2 separate regions of the Homo sapiens genome follow, and region 2 is linked to region 1. A link means that fine-mapping ties the variant in region 1 to the expression of a gene that starts in the linked region. Tissue or cell type: whole blood. Region 1 holds a variant in brackets; the other region holds the start of a gene. All regions are shown on one strand. Distances are from middle to middle.

Region 1 (16,791 bases):
TGGGTGAAAGTTGGGTTATGTGGTGTTTTTTCTTTTGTTTTGTTTTGTTTTTTGAGACAGGAGTCTGCTCTGTCACTCAGGCTAGAGTGCAGTGGCGCGATCTCGGCTCACTGCAACCTCTGCTTCCCAGGTTCAAGTGATTCTCATGCCTCAGCCTCCTGAGTAGTTGGGATTACAGGCATGCACCACCACACCTGACTAATTTTTGTATTTTTAGTAGAGACGGGGTTTTACCAAGTTGACCAGGCTGGTTGTGAACTCCTGGCCTCAGGTGATCTGCCCACCTCGGCTTCCCAAAGTTCTGGGATTACAGGCGTGAGCCGCCATGCCAGGCCTTGGATTTCTGTAGCTGCAGTTTCTCAGGCAGGTTCTAGACGAGCCTTCACTGCAGACAGCATCAGCCCTGTTCCCACGGTGTGGCTCCTCCTGAGTCTCCACTGAATGTCCACAGTGATCACTGGGGACCCATCCCCCTGGCTGGAGCTTCAGTATGTCATGACCGTGTGCGAGGTCTGGAAGTTGTTCACCTTACATGCTCCTTTCTCCTCTTTGCCTGGCTTTGTGGAGTTTTCTTCTATACATGTACAGGCTGGTCCTCAGTACAGACTCAAGAGAACCCTGTGCAGATTTCTGGAGCTCTTTTCTGCAGTTTCCTCCTTGCGGGATTCTGCCCTGAAATGCCGGCTCCTTCTGTGTCCCCAGACCCTAGTGCAGTCTCAGCTCCGTAAGGGTGCTCAGCTTTGCTCAGGCCCTGCTTCCCTCCCTGTGCCGGCAGCCCAGAAACGGCCTTCAGGCAGAAGGCCAGGGCCCCAGGGTTCACCTTGCCTGTCTCCCTTCCAACAAGGGTGGCGGTCTTGTCCGGGATCTCGGACTCGTCCAGGGTCTCGGTCTTGTTGGGGATCTCGGTCTTGTTTGACCAGTTGTCCAATGTCTGCAAACAGTTGTTTCATATACTTTGTCCAGTTTTCTAGTTGTTCATGGAGGAACATTAAAGTCTGGTCCTTGTAACTACGGCCTGGCCAGAAGCAGAAGTGAGTGCCAGCCGTTGTGTGGGCATAGAATAAATATTATCAGAAAGTAAGCCGATTTGGTTATTTCTTAATGTATTTACTTTGTTCTAAAAGTTATTTCAACACAAGTTACTTTCCTAAGTGGCAGTCATGGTTTCGTCACTACAATTTCAAGAAAAGAGCTAACAGACATCTACTTGACCATCTGTTTCTCAGAAAGTTCCAAGACTGCCCTGTCCTTTCAGAAGCCACAGGTCATGATAATCAGTGAAGGCGGGGGGCTGGGGTTGTCCGTGCCATTCAGGGCACCCCAGTGCTCCCTTCTTGGCCAGAGCACTGGTTCTTGGATTCCTGTAGCTTCAGTGACAAGGTGCTGTGGGGCTGTGCATCCAGCCTCATAAAATGTCACCAGCGTGACCTGCTCTCTCAGTCACAGCTTGTCCTGAGAGCAGCAATGGGACTAGAACGACAGGAGCAGGTAGTGAGAAACAAGAGAGCAGGGTCCTCTCCTTCCTGGACAGCAGGACTGTCCTGATCCCACTGCAAGGCTGCTGTGATGGTGACCAGTGAGGCCCGCGCTGCATGTTTTTGCACACTGAGGAGCTGCCTCCATTCATTCCCCCTCGCATTCCTGGAGCCCACGTGCTCCTTACCAAGCTCGCCTCCTGGTTCATGTTTGGGTGAAGGGCTCCACTCCACGCCAGGCTGGGCGTGGGGCCCACACCTGTCATCTCAGCACTTTGGGAGGCCAAGGCGGCAGGACTGCTTGAGCCCAGGAGTTCGAGACCAGCCTGGGTGACATAGTGAGACCCCATTTCTACAAAAAAATAAAATAACATGTAAAAAGATTAGCCAGCTATGGTGATGTGCACCTGTAGTCTCAGCTACTCAGGAGACAAAGGCAGGAGGATCACTTGAGCCTGGAAAGTTGAGGCCACAGTGAACCAAGATTGTGCCACTGCACTCTGGCCTGGGCAACAGAGCGAGAATAAAGTAAATAAATAAGAGCCCCAAGGCCCCCTTGCCTGCCCTGCAGCTTGGTCTTGCAGCTATGTTGGGCTGTCCATCTCACCTTGGCCATCAGGAGCCTGACGTGCACCTTCTAGTGCAGGTTACCTGGGCCCTGAGGGGGTTCCCTCGTCAGTACACAGAGTGACGCCACAGATGGAAGAGTGGACTGTAACGTTCCCTGCGCGTTTACAGAGGAGGTACAGACTGTTCTTCACTGTCCCCGTTTCTTAACATGTCACAGCCGGCTCCTCACCCATCCATGGCGGGGCCATCCCGACCTGCTCTCCTGAACGAAATGAACGAAAGCCCTGGGTGTCATAAGAAGCACAAAAGTGCCTGCGGAGGTGGGGGCCAGAGGCAGCATGGGGACTTCTGGCTGGGTGAGGGGGGAGGGACGGGGGCGTGAGGATGAGCTGGTGCTGAGGCCAAATGCTCAGGGCATGTTTTTATGTCTTGGGAGCCCAGCTGGTCCTGCAGAGGCCAATCACACTGAAATGCCACTCTGGCGTTCTACCATCCTTTCAGGAAAGGCCCAGAACAGTCTCAGCTCAAAAGCACAGGACCCCAGGCAGGGGAGGGAGGGAGTGTGTCCTCGGCGCCCACTGGCTCCTGAATGCAGAGGCTGGCAGCCCCTGCAGGGCCACAGTGACTAGGTGGAGGGCGGCTGGAGCTCGGCTGTCACGATCCCGTGCTCTGTCTTCTCAGTGGCGAGGTGTGGGAGTGGAGACACGCTCACCCACAGCCACTCCACCCCCAGGCGTGGTCCCACTGGAGCCCACCAAACCTCTAAAATTGTAAACATGACTCTTAGCTGGAGGGCCACCTGTGGGGCAGGAGTGTGCCATGATTTGGCCCATACTTTGTTTGGATTTACTTAGTTGCCAATATTTTGAAAAGGAAACACTTTATATATAAAAAGAACAGGATTTCCAGCCTCTCTCAGAAAAATGGGAAGACAGGCTTGTTGGCCCCACACTGCCATGGAGGGCGGCCCTGGGGTGGCACTGACATGGCCTCAGAAGACCAAGCCCGCCCGCAGGGACACCACTGCCCCCACTCCACGAGGCTGGCAGTCACCCTGTGCATGGGCACCTAGTACCTTCTCTGCAGAGGAGGCTCTGGCCTGGACTGGATCCAGGGCTTGGATTCAGATCCTGATTCCACCAGCTGGGGCTGTGTGACTTTGGACTTGGCCTTCATCTGAGCAAAGAGCCCCAGCCTGCGGCAACCACTGGGGCCGAGCAGGGCAGTCACTGGAGCCCTGTGTGATCTCCAGCGGAGGCTCCACCAGCATTCGGGCTGTCCGGGAAGAGGGGGCAAGAGGGGGCAAGAGGGGGCAAGAGGGGGCAAGAGGGGGCGGCTTTTGTCCTTCTTTCCCTTTGGATCTTTAGATGAGAAAAGCCTGGCTACAAGGTGTCTTCAACACACAAAACTGCCCAGAAATGCTCTAATTCTACAAACAGTTTAAAAAAATTAACCGAGTTAGCAGCCAGTTAACAGAATTATGCGACCTTAGGATACATTTTATGGGCCAGGCATGGTGGCTTACGCCTGTAATCCCAGCGCTTAGGGAGGCTGACATGGGAGCATTGCTTGAACCCAGGAGTTCAAGACCATATTGGGCAACATAGTAAGACCCTGTCTGTACAAAAAAAGTTTTTAAAAATTAGCTGGGCATGGTGGCTTACATCTCTGGTCCCAGCTACTCAGGAGGATGAGGCAGGAGAATCACTTGAACCTGGGAGGTGGAGTGAGCTGAGATCGCACCACTGCACTCCAGCCGGGGCGACAGAGGGAGACTCTGTCTCAAAAATACAAAAAATTTATGCAACCTTTTTTTTTTTTTTTTTTTTTTTGAGATGGAGTCTCACTCTGTCGCCCAGGCTGGAGTGCAGTGGTAAGATCTTGACTCACTGTAACCTCCACCCTCCGAGTTCAAGCGATTCTCCTGCCTCAGCCTCTGGAGTAGCTGGGTTTACAGGTGCCTGCAACCGTGCCAGGCTAATTTTTCTTATTTTTAGTAGAGATGGGGTTTCACCATCTTGGCCAGGCTGGTCTTGAACTCCTGACCTCATGATCCACCCGCCTCAGCCTCCCAAAGTGCTGGGATTACAGGCGTGAGCCACCGCGCCCGGCCACAACCTTTTTTTTTTTTTTTTTTTAAAGTAAACATCTCAAAATCTGTGGAGAAACAAATATAAATTTCAAAAGAACAAATTTTTTAAAGAAAAAAAAAGCCAGCATTAACATGGGACACCCTTTAAAGTTGTGACCATTTTTGCTCCTAAACCATCCTCTGCAGCTGGAGAGTGGGGTGGGGAGTGAGGGTGGGAGGCAGGGGGGCCTCCACCTAGAAGAAAACAAAATCACTCACCTCCGACCCACCCACAGGGTGCATGGCAGGGACCGCCTCCAAATCCCACCCCCAGGGAGCGGCCCAGGGGCGGCCCACTGAGCCCTGGCCCCAATCTTGATGAGGCTCTACATGGCGGCCCTACCCACTTCTCCTATGCAGTCTTCCCCACCCCCACAGCACAGCCGAATTCCTCAGAAGCTCTGGCCAAGCATCTCCTCTGACCCCAGGACATGCTTGGCCCTCCCCCTGCTCTAATCAGACAAGTCCCTTCCAGAACTCCAGGGTGCAGAACAAGGGCTGGGCCTTGGGACCCTCAGCTATGGGATCTGTGGCCATGTAGCGTTGGGCCTCATTTCTGCATTTGACAATGGGATGGTAGTAGCTGTACAGCCTTAGCCTAAAGACCTGAGCACAGGTGAGACACCAGGTATGGTGTCTGGCACTTAGTAGGCACTCAACAAATACTCGAGGAAAACACACAGAACCATTCCCATTATGTGTATCTGTAAACCAGGCTTGCAGCCCTCCCTCTGGTCTCCAGTCTAGGTCCCCCCACAGCAGGGCCCTCTCCGGAAAGCTCCTGTCTCCCTTCGAGTCCCTGACTTTCAGAAGTCACAACAAACGCCCATTTTTCTGTTGCTAGCTTTCCTAGTCCCCTTTGAAAAGGACAAAAATGTCGACAACACATAAACCACATATAAGATGGCCAATTGATAGGAAAAATGACCAACCTCATCATTTAAAAATGGCGAATTGGGCCAGGTGCGATGGCTCACGCCTGTAATCCCAGGACTTTGGGAGGCCGAGGTAGATCACTTGAGCCCAGGAGTTCGAGACCAGCCTGGGCTAACATGGGGAAAACCCATCTCTACAAAAAAAATAAAAAAATTAGCGAGGCATGGTGGCGCACGCCATAACCCCAACTACTCCAGGGGCTGAGGTGGGAGGATCACTTGAGCCCAGGAGGTGGAGTTTGCAGTGAGCTGAGATTGCACCACTGTACTGGGCGACAGAGGGAGATCCTGACTCAAACAACAACCAGGCAAATTAGGCCAGGTGCTCATGCCTGTAATCCAGCACTTTGGGAGGCCAAGGTGGGAGGACTGTTTGAGCCCAGGAGTTCGAGACCAGCCTGGGCAACATGGCAAGATCCTGTCTACAAAATGTAAAAAATTAGCCAGGTGTGGTGGTACGTGCCTGTGGTCCCAGCTACTTGGAATGCTGAGGAAGGAGGAATGCTTGAGCCCGGGAGGTTGAGAAGCCTGGGAGGTTGAGGCTTTAGTGAGCCATGGCTGCGGCACTACACTCCAGCCTGGGCGACGGAGTGAGACTCCATCTCAAAATACATACATAAAATAAAATGGACTAGAAAAAAAAGGCAAATTAAAACCAATAATGAAGTATCAGTTTTGACTTATCAGATTGGCCAACAAACAAACAAACAAACAAACCATTTGCTAAATCCACCAATACTGAGTGAGGAAAGGTGCCTCACGCCTGCAACCAGGAGCAGGGGGCCAACGTCCTGGGGGCAATTGGGTAACAGCGCTCAGAACTCAAACTGACCCTACCTTTGACCAGCTATTTCCCTTCTGATCTAACAGCAGCCTCTGTGAGCACGCAGGGCACACGCACAGGAGGTTCACTCTCTTAAGAGCTAAAAACGACAGGCCGTCCAAGTGTCCACAAACATCAGACACCAAAACAAAGGGAGGTGAGCCGATGCGGCGGCTCACAAAACTACCAGAAAGATCTGTCGGCTCTGTGTGTACTGACATAAAAAATACTGCAGACATAAATAAAAAAGCAAGCTGCCCCCACGATATGCAATTGACAAGAAAAGAGGATATACACATATATTTAAAAAACCACTTCTGTTCTGAGGGTGGCTGGGGAGTCTGGAGGGGTGCAGGGGGACTGGGCAGTTGTGGCCTGGTGGGTAGGGACTGGGAGGGAGTAAGAGAAGAGGGAGAAGGAACACAGTCCACTGAAACCCAGTGTGGTGTTATCCATTAGCGCAGGACTGAAACCCGATGTGGGTGTTATCCATTAGCGCAGGACTGAAACCTGATGTGTTATTCATTAGCGCAGGATGCCCCACGCATCCGGAGATGGGGTTTGGAACATCCTTTGCCCCAGCGAGGTGCGAGGTGCTCCGGAACTTGCGGGGCTTAGCTGCCCACACACGTGGGACAGACTGTTGGGTGGCTGGTCCCTGTACCGGCTCCTGAAAGGACATTTGGGCACTTGATACACACCCATAAGGTGCACTCTAGGGAGGTGGAGGCAGGCCTGCTGCAGGGGGTCGGCTTCAGAAGCAGGTATTTCTTTGGGGTGAGGTCAGACATCTGCCTGGGTGCTTCTCTGGAACTGCCTTAGGGAGAGCTTCCGTCCGCACTGGGTGCCACTCAGTCTGCCGCGCTTTTTATGTACGCTGACTTTTGTTGTGCTGCTGAAGAATATCTTTCCAGTTTGATGATTTTTCAGGTAAAAACACTACCTTAGAAATCTGTGATTTCTTCACCCGTATCTAAGGTTAACCCTCTTCCGGCCATTTGTAAATACTCCATTCTACTTCTGCGTATTTTCGTGGTTTGCCTTGGAGTCCCTCCCTCGCCCTGGAATGCCTGGTAGTGTGTGGTCCCCGTGAGAGGAAGCGGAGATCAGAGTAAGCTGTGTTCCCACCCTGCCAATTGCTGAATGGTTCTTTCTTTCCTTGGCTCCTGGAGAACAACTACATTCTTATCTACCAGGCTCCACTGAGCGGGCGGGAGGTGGGGGCGGGGGTGGGGGTGGGAGTGGGGGCAGGGGTGGGGGTGGGGGTGGTGAGAAATTAGTCGTATTTTGATTAGAATGACACTACAGATTACTTTACTTTGGAGAAAACTGCTGCCTTTGTATATTTAATGCTTCCATCCAGGAAGTGTCATTTTTTTAAGCCTCAAACATTTTTTTGGATAATGCTTGGTAGTTTCTCTAGCATTATCTGAGACTAACATCTTCTGAGACTCCTGGGTTTTGTAGACTCGGGGCCTCCCATGCTCCCATCCCTCACAGTTATCTCCCTGTACGTGGAGCAGACAGGAATCAAGGATCATGCCCCTGCACCTGTGGGTGCCCCCCCACCCCTGTGCACCTACGGGTACCCCACCTGCAGACCATGCCCCTGCCCTCCGAGACATTCTGAAGCAGACCGATAGAATCAAGTTTAGGAAGAAAAATGGCATGGCCTGGGGCTGGTGCAGGAAGGAAGGAAGCTGGATGGGGGACAGGTCTCTTGGGCAGCCTTTGGAGGAGGCAGGTGCTGGGCAAACAAGGAGGGTGCCTGCAGGTGCTGCAAGGTCTGCAGGTGGGGTACCCACAGGTGCACAGGGGTTGGGGGGCACCCACAGGTGCAGACAGGCTGGAGCTGGAGTGCAGGTAGCTGGGGGAAGAAGGGAGGGAGATGAGGCTGGACGTGCTGGGCCCCAGCAGTCTGTGTGGGAGACCTATCTATCTGAGGCTGTCATAAAAACGCAGGTGAGAGAGGAGGCTAGGCTTGGAGGTGGGTCCTCCAAAGAGCCGCATCCAGGGTGTATGGGGGAGCCCCGACTCCAGCCAGCTGTTCCAGCCTCAGAGGTTGGCCGTGCCCTGGGACGGGGTGACTGCTGGGTCTGGATAGGTTGGCAAAGCAGGGCTGAGGACATGAGCAGGAGGGTGGTTCGGGGCCTATCCCAGGTCCAAGAGGAGTATGGCTGTTCAACACAGCTGTGTGACGTCGTGACTAAACACCATATCCTACAATAGTCGTTCATGTCATTAATTTAGATGCCACTAAATTGTTAACTATTTCAGTATCATTTCATTATTATTATTATT[A/AT]TTTTTTTTTTGCAGAGATGTTGCCCAGGCTGGTCTTGAACTCCTGGGCTCAAGTGATCCGCCCACCTCAGCCTCCCAAAGTGCTGGGTTTACAGGCTGAGTCACTGTGCCTGGCAACATTATTACTTTAAACTCCAATCATGACTGTGTAGTGTGCATACTCTGTTACCCACAATGCATGGAACACGTTTAAAAAAGAGGAGGAAACTTCCTCTCCGTTTCTAGAATGGAGCTTTCAGACTGCTTGTCTGGCGAGCGACTGCCGAGCTGCGCTCTGTCCTAGTGTCGGTGCACTGGAGGGCGCAGTGTCGCATCTTAACCAGAAACCCGGTGCCCTTAAGTGGCACCCCTTACTTCACCAACGCAGTTTCCAAGGTTTTAAGGAAAGTATTCTTACATGAAGTAAAAATATCACACAGATAATTCAGTTAAGCATGCTCAAATATTCAAAACACAAGGAAAGCATCAAGATACTTCGCAGATCATTAAACAACTCAACTGCATGAACCACTTTAGTCTTTTCCTAAATCCTTCACAGGGTGAATCAAAAGCCCCATGGACTTATGCTGAAACGTATCTTTCTTGCTTGCTTTTTTTTTTGAGATGGAGTCTCACTCTGTCGCCCAGGCTGGAGTGCAGTGGTGCAACCTCGGCTCACTGCAAGCTCCGCCTCTCGGGTTCACAGCACTCTCCTGCCTCAGCCTCCCAAGTAGCTAGGACTACAGGCGTCCGCCACCACGCCCGGCTAATTTTTTGTATTTTTAGTAGAGACAGGGTTTCACCGTGTTAGCCAGGATGGTCTCGATCTCCTGACCTAGTGATCCACCCACCTCGGCCTCCCAAAGTGCTGGGATTACAGGGGTGAGCTACCGCGCCCGGCCTCTTGCTTGCTTTTTAATTGCAACACCGATGCTAAGAAATACCAGCCGTTGCCAGGCATGGTGGCTCCCGCCTGTAATCCCAGCTACTCAGGAGGCTGGGACAGGAGGATTGCTTGAGGCCAGGAGTTCTAGCCCAGTCTGTGCAACACAGTGAGACCGTGTTTCTAAAATAAATAATAAAGAAAAAATAAATACCAGCCACCCTGTCTCAGCCTAGGGAGGCAGGGACATGGCAGGGCCTGCATCTGGCCACCTCCTCCACCTGCTGAGGCCCCCAGTGCTTCCCCAGCTTTCCTGCCAAGAGGCCCCAGTGCTACTGAGCTGCAGGCAGCAGGCTCTCGAGGACATGACCTCACTCACAGGGCTCAGGGTCTAAGACTCTGTTAAGACAGGCGCCTGGAGCCGGGTCATAGGGAGGCAACATGACCCCCACAGCCAGGAGATGGACAGCAGGTCTGCTGAGGGCTCTGGGCAGCTTCTCCCTCCCTGATTAAAAGAAAAAGATTCAGGAGAGAGAGGCCCTTCACCTTTTGGCCTTCTCAGGGGATGGTGGGAGTGTCTGCAGCCATTGCGGAGCCATTAGGAGAAAAGAGAATCCCAGAGGGGCCACCTGAGGCCCGTTGACCTGGGACTGAGGGCTCCGATGAGCTCCTGGGCCTCAGTCAGCGCGTCCTGCCATGGGGCCGTGCATGCCGCCTGCTGAGACCATTTTGGGCACTCAGGATATGGACCCCTCAGTTCTCTCCTTATTTTAGTGAGGCGTGTCATTTTCCACAGTTACCACGAGGAGATAAAGGCCGGGAAGCTCTGGTTCACGTCACTTTCATATCCTGTCCTGTGACTTGTAGCTAAAAGCATCTTAACTGATCCACACCAGCCCGCCTTCCCTCCCAGGCCACCCACACTCTCAGCCTCGGTGGACGTGTGCTGCTGTGTCAGGAACGCTCCTTCCTGCAGCACGGCCTCGGCCCCAGGTGACTCCTGTGGTCACCAGCTCCCTGGTCTCACAGAGAGCTTGGTGGCCCTCTTCACTCTCTCCCGGATCTGCTTCCTGAGGCGCCAACCCACCATTTTACAACCCACTTTCTCAAGCCTCCTACACCGCTCCTTCCTCCTTCAGAGCCTGTGGCCGGCCTCGGGCTCTCAGCCTGGATGCTGAGCATGTAAGAGGAAATGAAAGGAATCTGCCAGAACCGTTTCCCACCACCAGGCCAGCTGCTGGGACCAGGGACAGCCTCCCTGGGGCCTGTGCACTCCCGCACGGTGGAGGCTGCCCTGGCCACTGCTGCAGACCCTTTGCAAGGGCGTCTGTCCAGCAAGCAGCTCAGAAGTCGGAGCAAGCATCTCCCTCAGGCCCAGGGCAGGTGCTTGTGGCGCTCTAGGACTCGGAGGGCAGGTGCTCGTGGTTGCTCTAGGACTCGGAGGGCAGGTGCTTGTGGTCGCTCTAGGACTCGGTCCCCAGGCCTGGGTTCCTCAGCTGAGATGCATACCCACTGCACCTGCAGCCACTGCCTGCCCAGCTGCCTGCTATGTGGACAGAGCCCTTGGTCTCTGACCCAGGAGCCTCCTGTCTCCCGCCAGGCTTGCTTGTCAGCTTGCAGGCTGGGCAAGTGCACAGCACTGGCTGCAATCAACCTTCTGGCTTCGGTGCCCACCTCTGCCTCTGTCCTATTAAAGGCCAGCCCTGCACACGGGCACCGAGCCCCTTCCCCTGCCTCCTCCAGGACTTCTCTCCTGAGTCATCCCATTTCCCACTGCCTACCGGCAGGCTTTACATGACAGCTTGTGAGCCTCCCCTCTTGACTCCACATCTTCATAAATACGGCCTCTTTTCACTGCTGATTTTCAGAGCAAAGTTTCTTGGATATGTTGTCCATCCCATCTCCCATCCTCTCCCCAAGCCGGGAAGGATTGAATGAAAATTCTACTACCCCCCTGAGACCACACTTAAGACCACCAGTGACCTTCACCTTGCAAAAAAGCAGGGGCTGCTTCTCTGTCCTGACCTAACTGGACCTACCTGTAGCGTTCCACTGCACAGTTTAACCACTCCTTCCCTCCTAATAACTTTTTTTTTTTTTTTTTTTTTGTAGAGACAGGGTCTTGCTCTCTCACCCAGGCTGGAGTGCAGTGTGTAATCACAGCTCACTGCGGCCTAGAACTCCTGGGCTCAAGTGATCCTCCTGCCTCTGTCTCCCAAAGTGCTGGGATTACAGGCATGAACCAGTGTGCCCGGCCCTTTTTTTTTTTTTTTTTTTGAGATGATGTCTCACTACATTGTCCAGGCTGGTGTGGAACCTCTGAGTTCAAGCGATCCTCCCACTTTAGCCTCCCCAAATGCTGCAATTACAGGAGTGAGCCACCGCCCGGCCTATAGCAATTTTCATGTCAGACAAAATAGGTTTTTTGGTGAAATACAACATGAGGGGTTATGAGGGATGTTACATACTGGTAAAGGGAGGAAAAGATCAAGAAGGCAAAAAACCTAAACATGTATGCACCTAACAGCGAACCTCAAAACACATAAAGCAACAATTGACAAAAACAGATAGATTGATAATTGTAGTTTAAGAACTAATATTTCCCTCTCAGAAGAGTTAACATCATAGTAATTTAATTCTCTGACCAGAATGTAAAAATATTAGAAATCAGTAACAGACAAAAAAATAAAATTCCACAAATCTAGAAACTTAAGGAAAAATTCCATTTAAGTTAAAGCAAAATGAGTTGAGTTATAAGTCCTACAAGGGAAAGACAAGGGAAACATGAGGATGTTGAGATTTATGAGACATGGTTAAAGCAAAGCAACGCTTGGAGGAATATGCATTTCTTTGGCTGCATTGGTCAGAAAACAAGACAGATTTCAGACTTGAAGAAGGCATCATGAAGCTAGCACTCCTCCACTATCCTTGTAAATCATCCAAAAGCAAAAAAAAAAAAAAAAAAAAAAAGATAATGAAAAGCAAAAATGCAAACTTCATTTTCATTAAAACTAAGAGCTAGAATTGGTGGTGGTGGCGGGGGCTACCAAAGGCTGCAGGAACTCGGCAAGGGCTGTGTCAAAGACATACAGATGCCTCGTTACAGACCCCAGAAAGAGCAGAGGGCATTTCTCTAAGGCAAGGGTACACCCTGAGGGTAGGACCTAATTCCTTGTTTCAGGAGTAGGAACATGGGCTGGCAGCAAGTGCTTCCCTGACCTTGTTCCGTTCCTGGAAGAGAGGAGGGAGAGTGAACCAGGAACAGAACAGGCCCTATCTGCAAAGTGCAGTATCTGTGGGGAAAGGGAAGAGAGAAGCTGTATCAGCTGTTAAAAGCCTGATAGGTGGAGACTTGTATTTAAAGCTAAAATCAACGACACGACTCTGCTGGGCTGGAAGATGGTTCTGGCTTCATTTTCCATACAAACTTTTTCAAATAGCTAGTCAAGTAAAAATTTACCTGTTCTAAAGATGAGGCCAGGCACGGTGGCTCATGCCCGTAATCCCAGCACTTTGAGAGCGTAAGGTGGGAGGATCACTTGAGCCCAGGAGTTCGAGACCAGCCTGGGCAACAGAGCGACACCTTGTACCTACAAAAAACTAAAACAATCTTAGCTGAGCGTGGTGGCGTGTCCCTGTGGTCCCAGCTACTTGGGAGGCTGAGGTGGGAGAATCACTTGAGCCCAAGAGGTCAAGGCTGCAGTGAGCTGAGATTGCCGCACTGCACTCCAGCCTCGGTGACAGAATGGGACACTGTCTCTAAAAAGAGAAAAAGAAAAAAAAAATGAGGGGGGAGCCAAGAAACGAAAGTGCTCCAAGAGAAAAGGAGAAAGGAAACAAGCAAACGAATGAACACGAACGTCTCCAGAAGAACTTTCCATTGAGTTGATGAAAATTTGGACAAAATGTTTTGTGGTGAATTAAAAATGCAAGGAGGCGGTGCCCCTAAGAATCCTGAGCACAGAGGAGAGCCATGGAGTGCAGGTGGGAGGGTCAGGAAGACGGAGTGGGACGCGGCTGCGTGGAAGACAGAGAGAAACGCGCCACATTCGTGATGCCAGCACTGGAGCACACGGGGAACGGAAGCCACACAACCCCATTCCTTCCTAAGGCAGAAGGGAAGCTGCGTCAATCCTAAGAACACTTACAATAGTGTTTGTGGGGAGGGGCTGGGGGAACCAGACTCAGACAAGCCAAGTCTAAAAATTATATACAAAAAAGGCCGGGCATGGTGACTCACGCCTGCAGTCTCAGCACTTTGGGAGGCTGAAGCGGGAGGATCGCTTGAGCCCAGGAATTTGAGATCAGCCTGGGCAACATAGGGAGACACCATCTCTACTAAATTTTTTTTTTTTTTTGAGGCAGAGTCTCATTCCGTCACCCAGACTGGAGTGCAGTGGTACAATCTCAGCTCCCTACAACCTCCACCTCCCAGGTTCAAGTGATTCTCATGCCTCAGCCTCCCAAGTAGCTGGGATTACAGGCATGCGCCACCAGGCCCAGTGAATTTTTGTATTTTTAGTAGAGACGGGGTTTCACCATGTTGGCCAGGCTGGTCTTGAACTCCTGACCTCAACTGATCCACCTGCCTTAGCCTCCCAAAGTGCTGAGATTATAGGCACGAGCCACTGCCTCCAGTCCTCTCTCTACTAAATTTAAAAAGAAAGAAAAAAGAAAAAACAAATACATGCAAATAACCAAGAAAACCCTGAGAGAGAAGGATAAAGAGGAGATCCTACATCAGCCAGACATGTAAAAGGACCAGGAAGTGACACTGATTCTGACCCAATGGAACTGCCTGTGAACAGACTGAGAGTGGCCGAACGAACCGTCCGGATATAGCTCCAAAAGCACATGGAACATTTAGCACCATGACAAAGGTGGGAGTCCGAATATGCGGGAAGTGTGAGCGATGGAAAACTGGGAGCCGTTGCCACTTTGGGGGTTAATAAGAAGTGGTTCTGGCCAGGCACGGTGGCTCACCCCTGTAATCCCAGCACTCTGGGAGGCCGAGGTGGGCGGATCAACTGAGGTCAGGAGTTCGAGACGAGCCAGCCCAGCATTGTGAAACCCCGTCTCTACTAAAAATACAAAATTAGCCTGGAGTGGTGGCGGGTGCCTGTAGCTCCAGCTACTGGGGAGGCTGAGGCAGGAGAATCATTTGAACCCGGGAGGAGGAGCTTGCAGTGAGCTGAGATTGCGCCATTGCACTCCAGCCCGAGCAACAAGAGCAAAACTCCATCTCAAAGGAAAAAAAAAAAAAACAGACAAGATAAAAAACAAGGACATTAAATTACATAAAAATAAAAAATATGAACATAAAAAAACACCATAATAAACATTTAAAAACATGAAGAACTGGGAGAAAACATTTAAATTGTTGTCACCGAAAAGGCCTAATTTCTATCACATATAATGAGCTGCTACAAATCAATAAGAAAGACCACAATCTAATACACAAATGGGCAGGTAACTGAAGAACAGGGAAAGGAAGTGGCTCCTAAACACACACGAAGATGCACGACCTCCCAGCAGAGGCGCTGATGCCAATCCTGCTGCCACCGGCAAAAGTTCCGTGTGGCTACAGGACTCTCAGACACTGCTGCTGGGAGCAGCCTCTGGGTGGGTGGCGGAGGCTGAGGCGATGCTGTCCACCACACGTGGCACGCGGGCAGCCTTGACTACGCAAGCCCCTGGGGCACGTACACGTGTGTTTTCACACACACTGCAGCCTGTAAGGTTACTATTCTAACAGTATCTGTGACGGTAAAGGACTGGAAATAGCCTAAAATGCGCATGAAGGAGAGAATGATTAAATGAATGAGGCACACCCTCATGACGGAAGACAGAAGCTGTAAGGTAAGAAGGGGACGCCCTCCATGCAGGCACACAGGAAGGACGCACGCTCCCGCCCCAACCACATCACACGTCCCGCAACTCCAGCTGCCTCGAAGCAGCATCTGTTTCCCTCCCCCCTTCTCGCTACATCACAGACCCATGCAGTCCTCACAAGGTGCACCCTTCAAACAGACTTTTCTGAAAACTTCCTGAGACCAGTAGCAGGAGCTGGCACTGTGACCTGCTGAGTTTACCAGGCCTATGACTTAGGTGCAGAGAAGAGTCTCAGGGCGGCAACGTCCGCGCAGCAAAGCAGGACGAGGATGAGGATGCGGCTGACACTTGTCTGGCCCGTGAGGCTGAGCATCACTGGGGTCGGCCTGGCTCTTCCCCGGGAGCATCGCTGGGGTCGACCTGGCTCTTCCCCAGGAGCAGGGCCGTCTAAAGTGCACCAATGCCCACGCGTCTCACCTGGGCTCCATTCTAAGTCAGCCTGCGCCCGGGTGTACAGTGCTCCATTCTAAGTCAGCCTGCGCCCGGGTGTACGGTGCTGCATTCTAAGTCAGTGTGCGCCCGGGTGTACGGTGCTGCACTAGGAAATGGCATGGTTTCTGCCCTTCAGGGCTTTGCACCATAACCCGGGAAACACTCAGGTGCCAAATGAGAGGTAAAGAGACTCCATGCATTACTCAACCAAAGTGCAGGGATTTCAGGGTGCAGGAGGCACGCAGGGTGCTGACTCTCCACATGCCCCTCGGAGAGGGTGGCCCTCGCCAGCTGCCAGCTGTGGGCAGCTCCTGGGGAGGGCAGTCTCCTACCTGGAGTTGAGTCACCCTGGGAGGTGACACCAGAAGGGCTGGATCCCAGGTCTAGCAACCTCCACATGTCCTGGAGGGTGCCACTGGCAAAGGAGGAGGAGCTGTGGGATTGGCGACCATGCTCCTCAGGGTGCTGGGGAGCCTGGGGTGGCTTTGGGGACCTGTCTTCTTTCTGCCGAGGTGATTTACAGGTCACCGTGTGGATGCTGTGTTGTGTCTAGAAAAGACATCATCGTCTTGAAAGCCACCCTCTCCAACCCAGAGGAAGCCACAGGACTCCCCCCAACCACTCCCCTCGGAGCAGTAAGGCGACAGTGGGCCTGGCTTAAAGGCCCAGGCAGATGCTCCCAGGATCACCCAGGAGAGGCAGCTGCAGACAGGGATGCATCCGGGGAGCGAGTCTCAGCGCTGGGAACGCTGAGTGTGGGCAGGGCCTGAATCTCAGTGCTCGTCTCAACACTTAAATGACAAAACATGTCTAGGGCAGAGGCTGTTTCGTTTCGATGGGGAATGAGCTGAAATGCAGGGCAGATACCCTGAGGGGCACAGAAAGGAAAGGCCAGCGTGGGCCCCATGTGCTTTAGGGGTCCCGGGGCCCTCCTAACACTCTTACCACCCTTGTGGGACCACCCGGCAAACGCTCTGCAGCTCACCCTGCCATTGTGAGCAGTCCCTGATGACGGCACAAAGGCAGGCATGCAGAGCGAAGGCCCCTCCGAGAGGCCCAGAGCACCCAGGCCCCGGCTTCCCTGCTGGCCACACCCCACACAGCTGCACTTGCTCGGGCGCCGCCACTCTCACCTTCGGGCCTTGCAGGGCGTCAAGTCTGCTGCCCACCTGTGCTGAGCGGGGCTGGTGCTTTCCCAAGTGTCTGGAAGGAGCCTCATCCTCGGCACTCTTGGCGTCCTGCCGTGGGGATTTAAATGAGAGGACTCTGGTATTCACATGTACTGATGGTGCATGTCAGTGAGTTTTCCCACAAGATTGGGAAGAAATGCCTTCCCACATTTCTGGTATTAAAGACTCACACCATTTGGT
Region 2 (13,339 bases), 19 kb before region 1:
TGGTGGCTCATGCCTGTAATCCCAGCACTTTGGGAAGCTGAGATGGATGGATCACGAGGTCAAGAGATCGAGACCATCCTGGCAAACATGGTGAAACCCCATCTCTACTAAAAATACAAAAATTAGCCGGGCGTGGTGGTGGGCGCCTGTAGTCCCGGCCACTCAGGAGACTGAGGCAGGAGAATGGTGTGAACCCAGGAGGCAGAGCTTGCAGTGAGCTGAGATCGCGCCACTGCACTCCAACCTGGTGACAGAGTGAGACTCCGTCTTAAAAATAAATAAATAAATAAAAATAAAAATAAAAAAACGGCGTGGCGCTTGTCCGAGGTCAAATGCCAGTCAGAGCGAGGGCCAGGCTGGCGGGAGAGGGTTGAAATGCCTGGGGTGGGGGGACGTGGGCAAGGGTAGTGGGGAGGGTGGGAGGGGAGAGACAGCAGGGCCGGTGCTGTCCGCTGCTTGGCTGGTGGGGGTGGGGGCCTGGAGGGCCCCTCAAGAACCTCCTGCTTTGCCTCTCGTCACTCCAGCCCCGGCCCCGGCCCCAGCACCAGCCAGACATCAGAAGCGAGGAGACTGGTACGCTCAGGTCAGGGCACACCCGCGACACCTCTGGGGTGCAGTTGGGAAACTGCGGCCTACCCCGTGGCCCACACCTCCCTGAGCCCGTTGGCCAGGCCAGGGGCACAGCCGGGGAGGGTAGGTGGTGCCAGCACCTGGTTCTACCAGAACCAAGAAGAGAAAACACTGCCTATTCCACGTGAGCAGCAGGAGCCCTCGGCGCAGCAGTCGCGAATGCCCGACCCACCTCCGTCCACGATGGCTTCATAGGTGACTTCCAGCAGCAGCCGCAGCTGAGGGTCCATCGTGTGTGCCTGCTTGGGGTGGACTCCGAAGAAGGAGGCATCAAACCTAGACAGGTCCTTCAGCTTGCCGGACCGCCGGGGCAGGCCGTAGAGCCCTGTGGGACAGGCGGGTGTTTAAATCTCTGACGGAAGCTGCCCAGAGGTGGGGGCCCTGTGGGGTGCTGCAGGCCCCTGGAGGGGCCATGGTGGAACTGAGGACTCTCTGCTATGCCTGGGAGGCCCAAACAATGGAGCAGGCTCCCCAGGAGGGGAAGACCATGGCCCCAAAGCGGGGACTGGTACGACCAGATCTGCTGCACAAGCCCCAAGCCCCAAGCCCCAATCCTGAGATGGGCCGCAGAGCAGAGAGCTCGGCGGGAGTGAGGCTGGGGGACCATCTGCCGGGCTGGTGCCTCGGCTCTACCATGCTGACTCACAGCTTGCCTGTCAGGTAGAGCTGCTCTGTGGAAGAGCCTACTGGGTGTGGGGCAGTTGCTCCAGCCTCCCGGAGCACATCTGGTATGCAACCTCCCAGCTCAGGACAGACACAGGCAGGGGCAGCCTGGCCGGAAGGGCTCTGGCCCCCCGCACCCCCTGCATGGGTGAGAGACCCCAGCCCGTCACCCATCCTCTGAGCTTGGCTCCTCCGTAACAAGCAGATGGGCCCTGCCTGGGCCAGCCCTCGGCCTTGCAGCCATTGGGGGAGCCTCCTGTTGGCCTTGCAGCCGTTGAGGGAACCTCCTGGCAGGCTGGGCGCATTTTCTAGGCCACTCTGGTGCAATGTCCAGGAAGGAGGCTGCAGCTAGGCCTCGCCCATGGGTGACCAGTGGCTCTGCAGCTGGGACCGGCCTCAGGCCAGTGCCTGGGTGGTGAGGACACAGCACAGCAGGGAGGCTGCTGTGAGGACAAAGGTGGAGATGGAGCTTCACACCCCAGGCACGGGGAGCCCCGCAGCCACATACCCGCCTTCCAGCGACGGTCATCGTCCGTGACCATGTCCACACCGCCGATGAGGTTGTCCCAGAACTCCTGCAAGTTCTCCGACTCTGGCAGCTTCCCGGACATGCCGGCAATCACCACCTCCTCCATGGCTGCTCTGCAGGGCGGGCGGTGTGAGTGCCCCACACATCCCGGCCACGACACCCCCGTCAACAGCCTCGGCACCCAGAACAGGTGGACACCCATGGGGCCAAGCACCACCCTGAGGGTCCGTGCGGGCCCTGGCTCCTGCGGCTCCCTTCCTCATGTGGCCAGTTCCTGGGCCCTGACCCCGCTCTCGCTGGGAGGGGCTGCGTGCTCTGGGAACAGGCCCGCCTCTGGGCCCTGACCCATTCAGTTCAGGGTATTGGCTGGGGTACCCCACTGGAGCCCTGCAGCCCTGGCCTCCCCAGCAGTTACTGGTTTCTGCGCCTGTGTCGGCTTCCACTCGCCTGAGTCTCAGCCTTCCAAGGCTCCTGGAGCTTGTCCCAGGCCATCCCTAGGGCACCAGGGGGCTCACAGTGAGGAGCAGGCAGGGTCACCTGAGATGGGGACAAGGCCTCAGGTGGCCAGCCTGCTAAGGGCCATCAAAGAAATGGAGAGGCAGGGTCCCAAAGCCGGGGCATGGAGGTGGCTGGGAGCCCTAGAGGGGGGTACTCAGCACCCATGCTCACCCGTGTTGGGGTGGGGGCCCGCTGTCCAGGCCAGCCCAAGAGCCACCAGGGCTGGGGAGGGACGAAATGGGGATAGCCTATGCTCTGGGGGAAAGGTGGCCCCTGCCCCACTGTGGACCGACCCAGCCAGTCCAACCCCTCCAGCAGGGTCCAACCTGGAGAACCACTCCTGGCCAGGACACGCAGGTGTTGCCTGGCACCCTTCACCTGCGCGGGTGAACCCACAGACGCTTGCCTCCCCATACCAACCCACACACCACAGGAGGCCCTCCCTGGAGCCCAGGTCCCTAAGACCCGGAACGGGTGCCCAGGCCGCCGGCTCCTCCTCCAGCATGAGGGCTGGTGCGGCCCTGGGGGGAGGGGGCGGAGGCCAGCGCTGGTCTGGCCACTTGCACGAGGCCCCAGGGCCTGATACGCGCGCCGCCCCTCGGCAGTGCGGCCTCCCTTGGGCCGTCCCGGCAGGGAGGCGGCCGCCTTCCCACCCGCTGCGATTCACAGAGGCTTGGCTGCCCCGGGCCAGCTCCAGGCCCGCACGCTGGGTCCTCGCCGCTTGCTATTCACGCGGGGTCGACGGCCAGGCAGGGGGTGGGAACACCGCGGCGCGCCCGGCCTCCCTTCGCCCCGGGCGGGGGCTGCTCGGGACCCCTGCGCTTCGGCCGGGCTGCGCCACGTGATGGGGAGGCCGGTCCCGGCGCGGCCCCTGCGCCCCCCCGTTCCTCCCTCGCGGCGTCCCCTTCGGGCTGGGCCTCGGCTCCGGGGCGGCTCCGGGAGGAGGATGCGGCGGCGCCTTTGTGGGCGCGGGGAGGCCGAGCCGGGGGCTCCTCCAGGCCCTTCAGGGTCCGCGGCCTCCCCCACGGGAAGCGAAGGCGGCTGTTGGTGGCTTTCCCCGGCGTCCTTCCCCCGCCATCCGCCCACCTACTCCGCGGGGCCCCGGGCGCCTCCGAAGGGGCACGAACACCGAGACCCGGACAGGCCGCCCAGGCGACCCCTGGATACGGGGCCGGGCCACGCGCGCCCCGAGAGCGGAGGATGAGGAGCCGGGCCACCCCGGGAACCCCGGGCCCAGCCCCGACCACGACCCGCGCCCCGGCCCCAGCGCCGGCTGCTCGTACCTGGTGAGGGCGCGGGCGGCGGTGCGGGCGGCGGAGAGCGAGGCTGGAGCGCGGCGGAGCGGGAGGCTGAAGCGCGGCGGAGAGGGAGGCCGGGGCCGCTGCCGTCTCTCTGGCTCCCTCTAGGCCGGCGCCGACGCTATTTAAACCGCGGCCATCCCCGGGCGGCCACGCCACATGGGCTGACAGCTTGGCTGCGCCGCCCAGGCCAATGAGCGTCGGGGCTGCGCCCCGGGACCCGGCGCGCCGCCGCCGGTGGGGTGATGCTCGTGCGCGCCGCCGCCCGAGCCGGGACCCTGCGCGGGAACGCGCCTGGGGGGGTGGGGCTGGGACTGAGGAGCGCCGGGGGCGGGGCGGGCGGGAAACCACCGCCCCCCGACTTCCGCCTCCCGCCCCGCGGGCCCCGACGCGCACGCGGCTGCGACCGAGCCCGCGGCGCGCCTCCCGAGCCATCCCCGACCCCCGTGTCCGCCGGGGCCACGTGTGCGGGATGGGAATGCTTGGGCCACACTGGGGACTACCCCGTGGCCACACCGGGGGTCCAGCCGGCTGCGGCGGGGCGCTCGGACCCACAGGCGCGCGGAAGGACGGACGGACCCGCGTGCCCGCACTTCGGCCGCCGACTCCACGCCGCCGTCGCTGCCCGCGCGGAGCTGGCTGAGGGCGCGGCGTTGCGCGGCGCGGCGGCAGCAGCAACCAATCGGGCGCCAGGGGTGTTCGCACCGGCCCAATGGCGGCGCGCGGGTGGGCGTTGCTAGGCGATAGGGTGATGGGCGGGCGGCGGGGCGGTCCCGGATGCCTCGCGGGCCGCGGCGCAAGTGCGGGCGTTGACCCCGGCCGCGGGCGCCCCGGCCGGGGTTACTGCCGGTCATCGCAGCGCATCCCCGGTTTTCCTCGCGGGTGCGGCGGGGAACCCAGACCCGAGACGGACGTCCACCCACCCGACGGCCCCTCCTTAGCAGCTTCCCGGGGACCCGGACGAGGCGCAGGGCCGAACGGGCGAGCGCACTCCAGGCCGCTGGAGCTCGGCGGAGGGGAGGGGCGCGGCCACGTGGCGAGCGGAGTCGGCCGGGACACCCACCTGGTGTGGTGCGGACAAAGGGAGCCGCTGCCCCACTTCCCAGGGCGGAGGCTGCGAGTTTTCCAGGCGCGCACCCACGGGCGGGGGCTCAGCCCGGCCCTCGCGCGCTCCCTCCCTCCCGAGTGATTCCTCGAATCGTGGCCCCTTGGGCGGCCTGAGCCCTGAAGCGCGGCCTCCCTTTTCTGACCGCTTCGCGCTTGCGGGGCCAGGCACCCCATGGGGGGCAAGCGGGCCTTGTGAGGCCACAGGTGTCTCTGGCTGCGTGTCCTACTTTGAGGGCTCAGCAAGCCCGGGCCGCTGAAGGGGAACCGGAGACTGGGGCCCCCGGCCCCTCTGCAGGTGTCCCGCTTCCTTCCTCTCCTGAGAGCAGGCCTGAGGGTCAGGCGGCCACTCCGCGTCTTTTCCCTTCTGGGGCTGTGGTTGACGCACGGTGGGACCGAGGGTCAAGGAAGGACAAGGGAAGACAGGGCCGGGGCTGGCCCCGCACTGCTGTCCCCACTGCGGGGGTTCTTCTGATTCAGGGTGAGGCCCTGTGTCAGCCTCAGGCGTGCGGGCACGCAGCTCCGGCTCTCCATGCTCCAAACCTCCCAGGTGGCCCTGGCTGCCAGTGCTGGTGATCAGCGGCCAGCGGGGCCCTGCTCTCTGCAGCCTGTCGAGGGCTGGGCCAGCTACAGGGGAGCCCTGGCTGGCTCCCAAGGAGGTTGGAGACTCGTCCAGCACCCTGAGGGCTTCCACAGAAAGTGAGCGGCAGCGGCCGGGCTTGGTGGCTCACGCCTGTAATCCCAGCACTTTGGGAGGCCAAGGCGGGCAAATCACGAGGTCAAGAGTTGTAGACAAGCCTGGGAAACAGGGAAACTCCGTCTCTACTAAAAATACAAACATTAGCCGGGTGTGGTGGCGCGTGCCTCTAGTCCCAGCTACTCGGGAGGCTGAGGCTGGAGAATAGCTTGAACCCAGGAGGCAGAGGTTGCAGTGAGCCGAGATTGCACCACTGCATTCCAGCCTGGGCGACAGAGCAAGACTCTGTCTCAAAAAAAGAAACAAACAAAAAAACCTCACAGGGCCGTGACTCGATTCCAGGGGACATGTGTGGGAGACCACAGAGCACTGAGAGCCTCCAGCCCATCCCCAACTCCGTCTGGATTCCCATGGAGCAAGTGACGGAGGCTAACCTCAAACGCCCCTGCCCTGGGGCCACAGCCTTTGTCTGTGTGGTGTGGTCTCTGCTTGTCACGGTTATCCGGCCCGCACACCTGTGAGCTAGGCCAGCCGATGGCACTGTCTATATTTTACACTGGGGGTGCAAACCAAAGCTGCAAAGGTCCCACGATTTGCCAAGGTGGCACGGCAGGTTAGGGCTGGGAGCAGCGTTCTCCCATCGTGTTCCCAGAGAAGCTGTCTGCCCAGTTCAGAAAGGTGGCCCGAGGGTATATGGCAAGGCCCGTCAATTCACCCAGCTGGGTACCGGCTGCCTCCACCCCTGCACTCTGCTGTGGGCAGAGTGTGACCAGGCCTGGGGGGTGCGGGGGACAGAGACTGGGCTCCTGAGGAGTGGGGGTGGGATATGAACCCCCCCCAGTCACCATCCTGCCGGTCGCAGAGCACTGCGTCCGTGTGATGAACCCCCACCCCAGTCACCGTCCTGTCGGTTGCAGAGCACTGCGTCCGTGTGATGAACCACCCCCAGTCACCCTCCTGCCGGTCGCAGAGCATTGTGTTCGTGTGGAGGACACGCGAGGACTCTTGGAAGTGCTTTTTGGCGGGGTAGTGCAGTGTGTTCCGGGCGGACGGGCGTCAGTTTACGTGTGCGTTTCTCATCCTTGCAGGTACCTGGCCCCGGGCACTCAGGTGGCAGGGACATTTTGCTGTTATCCTTCGTGGGGGTGGACGTGGAAGGCCCAGCAGTGACCGCTGTCCCCGGTTGGCCCCCACCCTGCCAGCACCTGACATGCACACCCCAACCTGCATGAGGCCCAGGTGCCCACCTGGCTTCCAGGGGTCACCTTGGCCCGGTTCACTGGGATCCAAGGCTCTCACTCCTTCTGGGAGGGCCCCTCCCATGGTACTCTCAGGAGACGCCTGCTTTGTGGGTGGGCTTTCTGATCTGCCCCCTACCTGCTACCAGGCTCTGAGGAAGGCCACACTGTCCCCAACACCACTGGTGTGCAGATGGCTGTGGGTGGTGACACGGGCAGGCCAGGCTCTGGCACAGGCACTTGATACTGCATTTCCCAAGTAGGACAGATAAACAACGCTAAGGCCAAGCAGACGCCCCAGGGAGGAACCTGGTTTTAATGGGCCCTGTGCTCAGGGAGGCCTTCAGTCAGCAGGGTCGCCTCAGCAGCATTTGGGAGCCTGCCCTGCAGCTCCCTGCCTCCACCCTGCACGCTGTGCCCACACCCCCCCACAACACGTAGGTGAAAGCACAGGCACCATGCGGAGGCCCCGAGCACCCCTTAGTGGGGCGGGGTGGGGGGAGGAAGTCAGTCCATAATGTTGTAGTTACGGATCTTGGGGGGCCTCTGGCAGCCTTTAGCTTTTGCAGGATGAGACCGGGAGGCTCCTGTGGTCTTGGCCTTTGCCTGGGCTGCTGTCTTCATCCCTGGGGTGGCAATGCCTGCCTGCATCTTGACGGGCCTCCTGTCGGCTGCTGGAGGAGCTGGGAGCTCTGTCAGGTAAAGAGGAAAAAACAGCATGCATCAGGATGGCAGGGGGAGCAGGAGGCTGTGCTCACAGGCACTGCACAGGTGCAGCACTTCCGTGTTCCCGGCCAGCGGGGGCCCTGTGACCCTTGGCCTGGCTTTCCTCCAGGAGTCCGTGAAGGCCAAAGGATCCTGGAGTGACCAGAGAGCTGTGGCCTCGCCTTGCTCAGTGGGTCCTGCTTGGCAGGGACTGGGCCTGCCCCTCCACTGGGCACCTGGACATGTGGCTCTGAAAATGGTCCTGTTGTGACCATTTCGTAATGGGTCCCAGGAGGGGGCAGGGGTGCTGTGTGGTAATGGGTCCCAGGAGGGGGCAGGGGTGCTGGGGTAAATGGTTGACTCAAAGCTCCTCCCCCCAGGCTGCCCCGGGTGTCCCTACCATCTGAGACACATTGCCTGCCCCCGCCTCCCCGATGGGCCAGCAGTGCCAGGCTTTTGAGGCCAAAGGAAAGGCCGTGCTGGTGGGCACCACGTGGCCAGGCACAGGCCAAGGGCCCAGGAGTGCGCTACACACAGAGGCTGGGGCCTAAATGCCAGATAGCCCTTCCTAAACATCGGCTAAAACCATCTTCGCAGAGGGGTGTTGTAGGTGATCTTCTTTATCTGGCCAGTTTTTCTCTATTTTTCATTTTTTCAATTAAGAATGTGGGGGTTTTTTTTGGTAAAACAACAGCAAAATGTTACTAAAAATCCATGCAAGGGCTGGGCTTGGTGGCTCACGTCTGTAATCCCAGCACTTTGGGAGGCCGAGGTGGGTGGATCACCTCATGTCAGGAGTTCAAGACTAGCCTGGCCAACAATGGTGAAACGCCGTCTCTACTAAAAATACAAAAAATTAGCCGGGCACGGTGGCGGGCACCTGTAATCCCAGCTACTTAGGAGGCTGAGGCAGCGGAGTCGCTTGAACCCGGGAGGCAGAGGTTGCAGTGAGCCGAGATTGCGCCACTGCACTCCAGCCTGGGCGGACAAGGGCAAACTCTATCTCAAAAAAAAAAAAAACAAAAAAAACCCCACAGTAAGATGTGAGCTCAGCGTCCACTGCGTGGCCACACTGTGGCTGGGGTGAGGTCTAGAGGACTCCAGCACGTGGCTGAATGTGGCCCAGTGGGCAGTCTGGACAGGCTGACCCAGGCAGGTCAGCGGGCGGCCAACGCCTCCTGCTGGAGCCCAGCCTGTGTGGTCTGCGTGCAGCCTGGGTGACTGGGAAGCGTCTGTGCTTTGGGGACACCGGCAATGACGCACTCTCAGCTGGGCTGCGCAGTGCCCATGGGGGCAGCCACACACTCCCAGCCCTGGCCCTGGGCCCCTCTTCCCATCTCAGCTTCTTCCACTCCGATCCACTCTTGGGGTCTCAAGACACCCGGAACCAGTCTTCCTTTTCCTGCAGCCCCGTTGGGGTCACACAGTCCCTGGCCCCCTGCTGGGGTCCTGGGGGGCCCTGGACGCTGCCTGCTCCCTTTGTTTCCAACCCCCAGAGGAATTCCTCCTCTTCACACAAAGGCTACCACCCTTTATCTCTCAACAATAAGCCTGCCTGACCTCCTGGTCCCGGCCAACGCCCCCATCCCCACTCCCTCCCCCCACCCCCCACACTGGCTGGCAGAGGGTGGGGTATCCCGTGGAAAGGGCTTCCTGCGGGGAAGCTGGTCCTCTGACCAGGCCCTAGTGCTCCACTGTGACCCTGAGGCATCTCCTCAAACCCAGAGGCCTTGGTTGTCCCTCTGTAATGCTCAGGGATTCTGGGGGCTTTGCCCGGCTTGATCCTCCTCAGACAAAGCCTGTGGGGATTTTCAGAAAAAGTGAGCTGAGGGAGGGGGGTGAAGGGCCTGCCCCTTTGCCTGGGAGGCCTGAGCTGGCCCTGCTGGGAGGACCCTGGCTGTATCCCGGGGCGAAGCAGGGAGGTGTGAGTGGGTCACAGTCCCCGGGGCAGGGAGGGGCAGGGAGGGGCAGGGAGGGTGAGCTGGCCCCCTCCCCAGGGCAGGCCGGCCCCTAGCTCAGAATATCCACTTTACAGGCTCTGGTTTCTTCACTGGTCCTTTTCCTGCGGAGCCCTCCTCAGTGATGGTGGCAGGGAACTGGCCATGAGCCCAGGACCCCAGGGCAGCGGACAGCCCCAGCCCAGCCAGTCCTAGGTCAGAGGCACGGAGCTGGATGTGTCAAGGCGGCTGCCCCAGGCGTGACTCCCTGTGACCCCGGATTCTTCTACCTGATGCTAATCTGAGGTCAACCCAGTAACTGGTGTGTAAAAACGCTCTTGGCCTCCACCACTCTCTGCCCCGCCTTCTCGCCTGACCTGTTTTGCCGAGCCTGGCCGGGATTTCTCTTTCTGCGTTGGGCTGACTGGGCCGCAGGGAAACCATGTGGACACACAGTTTGCCGGGCACAGCGTGAGGAACGCGCCTCTTGGGTCCTGCACCCCTCCCCCACGGGCTGCTTGTGCTCTGGCCCCGAACTGAGCTTCTGGAAAGTTCCTGAAACATCCAAGGCCTTGCAGTGATTAACCAGGGGAGGGGGACTGGGGCCTGCTTGCCCCTCCCAGGCTTAACCCCTCCCAGGTCCTGGTGTGTGCTGAGGCAGGGCCACCCAGGCTGGGCTCCGTCCCCTCAGGCGGCTGCACCATACTTGGAGGGTTTTTTAAATTTTTATTTTTATTTTTGAGACGGAGTCTCACTCTGTCGCCCAGGCTGGAGTGCAGTGGCGTGATCTCAGCTCACTGCAAGCTCCGCCTCCCGGGTTCACGCCATTCTCCTGCCTCAGCCTCCCGAGTAGATGGGACTACAGGCGCCCGCCACCACGCCCCGCTAAGTTTTTTGTATTTTTAATAGAGACGGGGTTTCACCATGTTAACCAGGATGGTCTCGATCTCCTGACCTCGTGATCCACCCACCTCGGCCTCCCAAAGTGCTGGGATTACAGGTGTGGGCCACCAAGCCCGGCTTGGAGGTTTGAAGCTGGTGGAATCTCAGGGAGGACATAGCCTGTCCTATTGCAGGGAAGGTGCGGCCCTCACTCCCGTCTCAGCCTGGGGGCATGAGAACTCTGAGCACAAAGAGGACGGAGCTGGTCCCCAGCTTTCTGGCCACCCTGTGAGTTTCTTCTCCTGCACCTGAGCCTCAGCTCAGCTCTTGACCAAGTTGGCCTCTGGTGGCTCATTCTCCAGGCTGCTCCGGGCTCTCTGGGTGCCCCTGGGCACACCTACGTGGCTTCCTAGGGCTTTGGGAAGGGCCAGACGGTGAGCCCACGCCTTCCCTGGTTCTCCAGAGCCTGCCTTGGGGCTGGGGAGGGCCTGGCCCTGATGGCAGCTCAGGCCTCAAGTCCATTCTGTGGCACAGAGGCCCTTCCGTCTCCCTGTGGCCTCCGCTGCTCTGTGTGGTTCACCCCTGCTGTGTCAAGGGCCCTTGTTCTGCTGAACCCCCTCTGGCTGCCACAGGGGTCCTCACGCACCCAAGATCAACCCTTCTCAAATGCATCTAGTTATTTCCAAGTCTCTTGGGAACAAGGCTTTTCCCACCACTGTCAGCACGGCACCCAGGCCTTTAGTGCAGACGGTGACAGTGAATGTGACTTGACTCCCCCCACCCCGAATCTCCAGAAGCTGCGTGCACCTTTCCAGGGTCCCCACGCCTGGGAGGCTCACAGGCCACGCCCACCCGTGTCTCCCCAGCCTGCGTCAACCCTCACCTGCTAAAGTCTCCTAATGGACACCCCCACCCCTGAGCTCCTGGAGCTCAGCCCTGGGGGGTCACCGTGGCCCCGGGGCTGCCTTTGTGGGACTGAGTGTGACAACAGGAGAGCAATGGGGTACAGGGGGAGGGAGGCCCACGTGATCTGGTTCCCACGGTCCCTCCACAGGGGGACACTCCGGGCCTGCTATGTCCAGCTGCCTTCCCCACCTCACTGGCACATGGAGCCTGGAGCCCCCACTGGGCAGATGCACAAGAGGGGAGGGTACTGGACATTGCATGCTCCAGGGCTCTGGGCAGTCCTGCCACCCATCACTCAGCCTGGTGAGGCAGGGCCAGCAGGAAACCCCAGATCCTTCAGGCCCCGCCTGCTGGCCTTTGGAGCAGAGGAGAGGTGGGCCCTCGGGGGCCTGGGCGCCGACCACAGGCTGACCCCTTGTTTCATGCCAGCACCTCCTCTGGGCGCCTGTGGCTACTCCCCCAACGGCACTGGCAGGTCCCCTGCTGCTGCTGAGCCTGCCCAGGCCTGTCTGCTACAGCCTGTCAGTGTTGCCCAATGTGGGCCCCATCCCAGCCCTTGAGAGGAGTCACCTAGTAGTGGGGTGCAAGCTGGAGCCCCAAGGAAGGGAATTCAAGGGAAACACATCGTGGGCATAAGGCTTTGAGAGACGTGGGTCTGTCCCTACCGGAGGCTGCATCACGGAAGGCGGGCACACAGGCCTCACTTGGGCGAGAAGAGACCCAGAGACGCATGGCCTTCCTCCTGGGCCGGCTCCCGACCAGAGCCCATCTGAGCTCAGCCCACAGGAAGGGGAGGTGCCAAGAACCCCAAGCACAGGTGGCTGCAGGCTGGTGGGTGCCGAGGAGGCCACTAGGAGGCTGAGACGGTGAGAGCCAGGGCCAGGCAGTGGCCTGAGAGCTGGACAGCCTCTGGGTATCTCCACACCCCACCCTTCTCCTGCCTTTCAGAAGAGTAAACGCAGGAGAACGCCCTGAGGCCCCGGAAGGAAAGTGACAGGCAGCGGCTGAGCTGGGGCGACAGGAAGTGGCAGCTGTCTCCGCTGTTTCGGAGGCATGGGAACTGTTTCCTGGTCCTAAAGTGAGGAATGCTGGCCTCATGCCCCTTGGGCCAGGACTCTGCACTGAGTGCTGAGTGCCTGGGCTGGTGTTTAGACGACTCGTGGTCTCTGTTGGCACTGTCTGGGGACAGCAAAAAGCAGCAGGGGCCAGTGTGCAGGGGAGATTCTGGGTAAAATTCATGAAAAGGGAACTTTCAAAAGGGGCCCATGGGGCCTTCCCAGGTCTGCCAGGCCAGCTTACAGCTCCAGGTGGGCACCCTAGCATCTCAGGGCCATAGACCAGCAGGTCACCGCCATGTCCCCGGGGAACAGCACTGCCTGCCACTCACTTTGCCTGAGACCCGTGTCTCAGGGCTGCTCCCTGCATGTCTTGGCAGGAGGGCGGACAGCTGGGAAGGAGGCCACACGCTCCTCCAGGGAGCCTGGCTCTGCAGGAGCTACGCCAGCCACACACTTATCAGCTGCCCGACCTGCTCAGGACACTGAGGGCCACATGCCTGGCCAAAGGCCTCTCCCCACTCCCTCTTCTCCCCTGGAGACCAGGCCCCTGGAGTTGCTCTCCAGAGATCTGGGCAATGACCCTCTGGATCCCAGGGTTTTTGGTTCCCCTGGGAAAAGAGGCAAAGGCCCACACACCTGCAGCAGGTTGGGGGTGGGGGGATGCATGGCACAGTGGCTTGGCACCCGGGTGGGGCACAGATGCCGCGGGAGTGGGGAGTGGGGAGTGGCTGCCTCGAACCCTGCTGTGTGGCTTGTCACCCTCCATGGCGTCTCTGCGCCTCCGTTTGACTCCAGCTGCACGGCACACGGGGCGAGGTTAGCATCAGGGGCCAAAGCGGACCCCCGCCAGAAAGGAGGAAGAGGCCCCCAGGTAGGTGCGTGCTTCTGGACCTGGCGCTCGGCACACTGTGAGGATGGGCGGATGGAGTTGGTCTGCAGGTTCCAGAATGAATGGGGCCCTGTTGTGACAGGAGAAGGAGGGCAGCCTGGGTTGAAGAAACACCCCCTGCTGTCCAACAGCTGCACTGCCCGCTCCCCTGGCAACACCTGCCACGTGGACTGGAGAAGACACATTAGCCCTTGGGCTGGAAGTCGTGGACCGGCGTCCACCTGAGATGGGACTCTGGGAGGGAACAGCCGCCGGCCCTCCTGCCTCAGCTGCTCTCAGCATCCTACAGTGCCATCGGGTGCTCT

Which allele goes with the higher level. Alleles are on the strand shown, and positions count from the first base shown. SD is a standard deviation of normalised expression in the study named.
For the expression in whole blood of the gene that starts at base 3,719 in region 2, allele AT in region 1 goes with a lower level than allele A (moderate effect, 0.63 SD a copy in TwinsUK).

What was found. PIP is the estimated chance that this variant, and not a neighbour inherited with it, causes the effect.
Region 2: it holds the start of FASN, and the variant in region 1 is fine-mapped to the expression of FASN in whole blood (TwinsUK, PIP 0.92).

What each region holds. Positions count from the first base shown.
Region 1 is chr17:82,111,939-82,128,729 of GRCh38, forward strand. It overlaps CCDC57 (coiled-coil domain containing 57), which reads right to left. Exons shown (of 19, transcript NM_001394669.1): 17 at 16,555-16,659; 18 at 15,754-15,970. Among named protein-coding and RNA genes, the nearest start is that of FASN, 22 kb to the left of the region's middle. RefSeq lists an enhancer at 4,931-5,838. The variant A/AT (reference allele first, on the strand shown) is at 8,236.
Region 2 is chr17:82,094,518-82,107,856 of GRCh38, forward strand. FASN (fatty acid synthase) reads right to left here and starts at 3,719. Exons shown (of 43, transcript NM_004104.5): 1 at 3,604-3,719; 2 at 1,802-1,935; 3 at 803-955. The coding sequence starts at 1,928. It overlaps CCDC57 (coiled-coil domain containing 57), which reads right to left. Exons shown (of 19, transcript NM_001394669.1): 19 at 6,953-7,349. The coding sequence ends at 7,165. RefSeq lists enhancers at 2,028-2,943, 9,346-10,259, 10,260-11,173, 11,455-11,504, 11,545-11,874 and 2 more and silencers at 2,812-2,861, 2,922-3,131, 3,152-3,341, 3,412-4,891.